Linked DNA regions of Homo sapiens: region 2 is linked to region 1. The links come from fine-mapping of genetic effects on gene expression. A gene starts in region 1. The other region holds a variant in brackets. All regions are shown on one strand. Distances are from middle to middle. Region 1 holds the start of NDUFC1 (NADH:ubiquinone oxidoreductase subunit C1). Region 2 has its middle 40 kb from the start of RAB33B.

The links.
Region 2: its variant is fine-mapped to the expression of NDUFC1 in esophagus muscle (GTEx, PIP above 0.99). The same link has a PIP of 0.9 or more in breast, sigmoid colon and tibial nerve.

What each region holds. Positions count from the first base shown.
Region 1 is chr4:139,301,312-139,304,174 of GRCh38, forward strand. It overlaps NDUFC1 (NADH:ubiquinone oxidoreductase subunit C1), which reads right to left and starts at 1,166. Exons shown (of 6, transcript NM_001184989.2): 1 at 1,105-1,166. It overlaps NAA15 (N-alpha-acetyltransferase 15, NatA auxiliary subunit), which reads left to right and starts at 194. Exons shown (of 20, transcript NM_057175.5): 1 at 194-520. The coding sequence starts at 467. RefSeq lists an enhancer at 185-244.
Region 2 is chr4:139,492,400-139,495,315 of GRCh38, forward strand. It overlaps a transcript of SETD7 not described here. Among named protein-coding and RNA genes, the nearest start is that of RAB33B, 40 kb to the left of the region's middle. The variant G/C (reference allele first, on the strand shown) is at 1,604.

The sequences.
Region 1 (2,863 bases):
GGGCGCTTCGAGGGTACCACGCACTGAAATGATGGGCGGGGCCTGCCCCGACCCTCCCGGCCTCCACAGGCAGGCCAGCCTCCAGGTTTCCCGGCAAGCTCCGAAACCCAGAGGAGGTGGGGAAAGGAGGTCACCGCGCCTGCGTGTTAGGAAGCGTGACCCGGGTGGGAAAACCCTCCGCGTCCGCCATTTTGGCTGCCTCTGTCGGTCTGTTCAGTTACCACGTGAACCGCCGACGGAGACCCGTAGTGGGGGAGGCGGCGGCAGCGTTAAGTGAGAAAGGAAAAAAGACAACGAGGAAAAAGGAGGTGTCCGGGTAGGGCAACGCGGCGACACCCGAGGCCTGGTGGTGGCGGCGGATCGAGATATTCAAGGCTGAAGCAGCTACGGAACGGCAGCGGCGGCGGTCGGACAAACTGACTGACCGAGCCGGGTGGTGGCGGGAGCAGCGGGAGCAGCCGGAACGATGCCGGCCGTGAGCCTCCCGCCCAAGGAGAATGCGCTCTTCAAGCGGATCTTGGTAAGTGTGAGGCTCCGGGCAAGCGGTGGGGAGGATTTAGCCGGTAACCGGGCCTGTCACCCCTAACCTCGGCCCGGCGGGCACTGAGCCACTCCCGCCCGGGACCCCGCCTTCATAGCTCTCGTCAGGCCGAATGCATTGCTTTGCTCCCTCTCTGTGGTTCCTACTATGGCCCGCGCGCCAGGGACCACAGGCTTCTTCATTCCATCCCCACGCTTGAGGCCCTGGTTCCGGACTAGGCCCCGACCTCCCGGCTTCTAGACTGCCGGTTCTCATTCTCCCCGATCTGGGGGAGAAGAGGCCCGGCCTTTGGCGGGCAAGTGGGCGACACCGGCAGGAGTCGCGGCCCGGTTGGTGTGGGAACCCTGCTGGCAGGTCGGGGTGGCACCCTTGGAAGGAACAGGTGGTGCGGATGCAGCAGGCTCATTCATTGCCTAAACGCGGTTCTCCCTCCATCATCTGTCCCTCCCTCTTCCTCCTCTCTTGGGATTCACCTGTCTCCGCCCGGCCCGGGGTCACCCAATGACCTGAGAGGAGGGAAAGAAGGAGTTCAGAGAAGGAAAGAAAGCTTTTCAAACGACTACCTCCTTGTAGTCAGTTGCATACTGGAGTCTTCAGCTCCTCTGCCTCCGTTGTTCTCGTTTCTGGAGTAGGGATGAGGCATTTATTTCTTAGTTTCCGAGCGGGAAACAGCCCCACCCCGTCACTCTTCTCGGGAGGTGGGGCCCATTGCGAGGGGGCGGTTCGGTAGGAAGTAAAAAGTTGAGTCTTTAGTTGAAACGTTGCAGACCTAGACTTTTCTTATACACTGAAGTATATTAACACATGCAAAAACTTACCAGAGAAATGAGAATATAAGAACTTTTGAGATGGATTTTGTTGACGCTAGCTCAGACTTATTCCCTACGGTTCAAATGTGTGCAGTTTGTATTTTTTTAAACCATAAATGCATTGATGTTTGCAGGGACTGTTTACATTGTAAAATATGTCCTGTAGCCTTGGAGCTATAATTAACACATTGTAGCACATTTTTTGTTTGGCATTTAGTATGTGGGTTCCCCCTTTCACGCAAACGTTTCCTTATGATAGAATTAACTGTATTTGCCAAATTTAAGACTTTTAAAATTTGGGATGTGTGTGTGAAAGTGTTAGCCTTTTCCCCCGCAGTTATAATTTATTTCACCTGTTTGAAAAGTAGAACAACTCTGGGGATTCAGTTTTTCTAGAAATGAATAATCATCCATTTGAACTAACTTTGATTTTACAAAAGTGTCCATATGCCCTACAGATTTAGTGAATTCATTTTGAAAAACATTAGAAAGTCACATGCAGTGTCGCAAAACTGTTACCTTGAAATTCTTACTGGAATTTTGTTTTGTTTTAAGACTAAGAGTGTAGGTGGAGCTGTAAAATAGTTTTAGGAAAAAAGTTACTTTTAAACCCTTAAAAAGACTAATTGGTGTGCAGGTAGAACTGTAACATAAGTTTAGAATAGCAATTTATCTTTAATCTCTTTTTCACAATTCTTTATTTTGAAAAAAATGAAACTGAAAAGTTGAGAGAACAAGGAACACTCATAAACCTTTACTTATATTTATTTGCCATATATGCTTTCTCTCTCCCTATGTATATGTATATATACATTTGTATAAAAGTAAGTTGTAGATGTAAAATTTATCTCTAGGCTGGGCACGGTGTCTCATGCCTGTAATCCCAGCACTTTGGGAGGCTGAGGCAGATGGATCACTTGAGGTCAGGAGTTCGAGACCAGGCTGGCCAACGTAGTGAAATCCTGTCTCTACTGAAAATACAAAAATTAGTCAGGCATGGTGGTGTTCGCCTGTAGTCCCAGCTACTAGGGTGGCTGAGGCACAAGAATCGCTTGAACCCGGGAGGTGGAGGTTGCAGTTCCAGCCTTGGCAACAGAGGAAGACTGTCTCAAAACAAAAACAAAAAACTTCATCTCTAAATACTTAAGCAAGCATCTCCTAAGAATAAGGACATCGTCTTGTATACTTATAACAATCATTCTCTAATATTGTCTAATATCTGGTTCATATGGAGATTTTCTCAAGTGTTAGCACTTTTTTTTGTTTGTTTGTTTGAGACGGAGTCTCGCTCTGTCGCCCAGGCTGGAATGCAGTGGCGCGATCTCGGCTCACTGCAAGCTCCGCCTCCTGGGTTGACGCCATTCTCCTGCCTTAGCCTCCCAAGTAGCTGGGACTACAGGTGCCCGCCACCACGCCTGGCTAATTTTTTGTATTTTTTAGTAGAGACGGGGTTTCACCATGTTAGCCAGGATGGTCTCAATCTCCTGACCTAGTGATCCGCCCGCCTCGGCCT
Region 2 (2,916 bases), 190 kb after region 1:
TGGGTTAAAATTTATCCAATACAGGGAACCTTAAAGGAGATGAATTGTAGCAGGCGGAGGCAGAATAGAGAAGGTGGGTAAAGAAAGGAAGTGAAAAGAAATGGAAATTCATATGGACAGTGAGAGCCACCTCACCCCAGCATGTGATTTTGAATTTGCAGGAAGCAGGTATGTCACCTTGATTAGGCTGCCTTCTCCTCCCCATGCCTTCTTCCAAGACCTCCTGAGGTGTCTGTAGCTGTGGCAATCCAAATTGCTATTGGTTGACAATGCAGACACAGCATTTTCCGCTACTTTCTGCTCTCATCCAATCACAATTGCCCCCTTCCCTCCCTCCCTCTTTCTTTCTCTTTCTCTCTTTCTTTCTTTTTCTTTCTTCCTTCCTTCCTTCCTTTCCTTCCTTCCTTTTTCTTTCTTTCCTTTTTTACCACCAAATTGGCTCCTCTGATTGCTTTTTCCTGGAAGTCATCCACTCATCACACAAATCCTGTGTTAACACTTGTTATTCCCATTATGCACTCATGTTTAGCCTTGCATTTCCTTTGATGAAGAGGAATAAATTAGGAGATGGAGATTCATAGGGAAAGTTCATTCTTTTATTTTATAAATATTAAACAAGCATCCCTTATGTTTCAGGCACTGTGTAAGGGACTAAGGATGTAGCAATAAACAAGACAGGCAAAGGCTGTTCCCCAGTGATGCTTATGTTACAGTGTTAGAAGACAGAGGAATAACAAATACACAAAATAACTGTGGATTAGGGATAACAATGAAACAATTTGGGTGGTAAGACAGCAGATAAGTTGAGGAGGCCTTCTGAGACATGACGGTCAAGGAGGGCACCTCTGATGAGGGCGGTGTGAGTCAAGGGCTGAAGGGTGACAGAGAGAAGCTATGCAAAGAGCTAGAGGCAAACAGGCAGAGTAATCAGCAGGTATAAAGGCCTGGATCCAGGAAAACGCTTGGCAAGTTTGAGGAACAGAAGGTCTGGCTGGAGTACAGTGGGTGGGGGAGAACGGACTGAATGATACTGGAGAGGGAGCAGGAGCCAGTCCATTGTAAATAGCTTGGATTTTATTCTAGCTGCAATGGAAAGCCATTGAAGTGTTTCAGCAGGGTGATGGCAAGATGTACTTTACTATTTTTTTTTTTTTTTTGAGACAGGGTCTCACTCTGTTGCCTAAGGCTGGAGTGCAGTGGCACAATCCCAGCTCACTGCAGCCTTGCCTTCCTGTGCTTAAGTGATCCTCTCACCTCAGCCTCTCGAGTAGCTGGGACTACAGGCATGCACCACCAGGCCTGGCTACTTTTTGTATTTTTTGTAGAGATGGGGTTTTGCTATGTTTCCCAGGCTGGTCTCGAACTCCTGGGCTCAAGTGATCCACCCACCTTGGCCTCCCAGAGTGCTGAAATTACAGGTGTAAGCCACTGCGGCTGGCTGCTTTACTGTTTTACATTACTCTGATTACTTTGTGAAAAGTGGGTTGGAGGGTAAGCAATGAAGGCAGCATGCCAATGGACTCTACTTCTTGTACATAACTTTTCTGGAGGCTCACTCAGTGACTGCCTGCCTCCCTTGCCTGACCTCTCGTTGGCCAAAACT[G/C]AATCTGGTGGCCAGCCTTAGCTGCAAGAGATCCTTGGAATGTAATTATTTTAGGCACAGGAAGACAAGGGGAAAATGGCTTGTGAATGTCTTTTGGGTAGGCAATCCACAGTATCTGCCACTAGGGTCATCTGCACTGTATCTGAAACAAGCCTGTGAAATAGACGAGGCAAGTCTTATTTGATTAATCTATAAAGGGGGAGGATGGTTAAAGAGCACAAAGATCATAGGTAATAGAGCAAGGGCTTGAGTCCAGATCTTTTCATCTCAGATTGAATGTACTCTCTCACTACCTTTCATTATTCTAGGCCCCACAATGAACTGATCCTGGTCACACATGTCCTGCTGTGTCTACTGGTGAACCATTCTTTCAACTCTGTCTTCAATATCCAGCATACCTGAGCAATTATTATGACTAAACAGGCGCTGGGAGGATGCTAGGTTATTGAACCTAACTTTAGAATGGACAGGAGCCTTCTAAAATATGGGAGGAAAAATAAATCAATAAACAGTGTCTTTTGTTACACTAGGAAATATTGTTCTGCCAAGCAGAATGATAAAGTGTAGAGCATGTACCCCAGGGGATATGAAAGACATTCCACTGGAGTATGGGAAAAGTATTAGAATTCTGTGTTTGTAAGGCTAGAGATGATATCAACATAGACACAGAAGTTCAGTATTATTAATATCTCATACATAAATTGATACTGGATGTTGGACAGGCACATGCCTTATGCCTATGGAATTCAGGAATTCTGATTCTACAGCATGGAGTGGTTAACAGCAGCATCCTCGCGGTTCACTCACTTTCATGGATTATGACAATATGAGTTTATAAAGAGCTTGGTTAAGCGGATTTACTACAATATTATCTTAAATGGGAAACTAGAATTCTTTTTAATGAGCTGGGGAATGCACATGAAATTCTACTTAGAAAAACAGTGTTTAATCTTGTGAGATAAATATGTAAACATTATATGTAATGGCACTATAGCCAGAATATGACATTATAGATTTTAAGCAGTAAGTATTTAAAATGGACATATTTTTCCAGATTAATGCACAATCTCTTTCATTCATTCTTTTGTACTTTTTCCTTTAACCAGTTTGGATGGAAATATCTCCAAGTAATATCATTTCTACTGTGAAAATTAAATGAATTAACTAATGAAAAGTACCCAGTTCAGTGCTTGCTGCAGAGTAAGTCATTCAATAAATTACAGCTATTGTTTCTCCAGAAATTCAAGGAAGGCAACCACAAGCTGATGGGGTGTTTATTCACCTGGCTGTCTTCTTTTAGAGGTTATATCAGG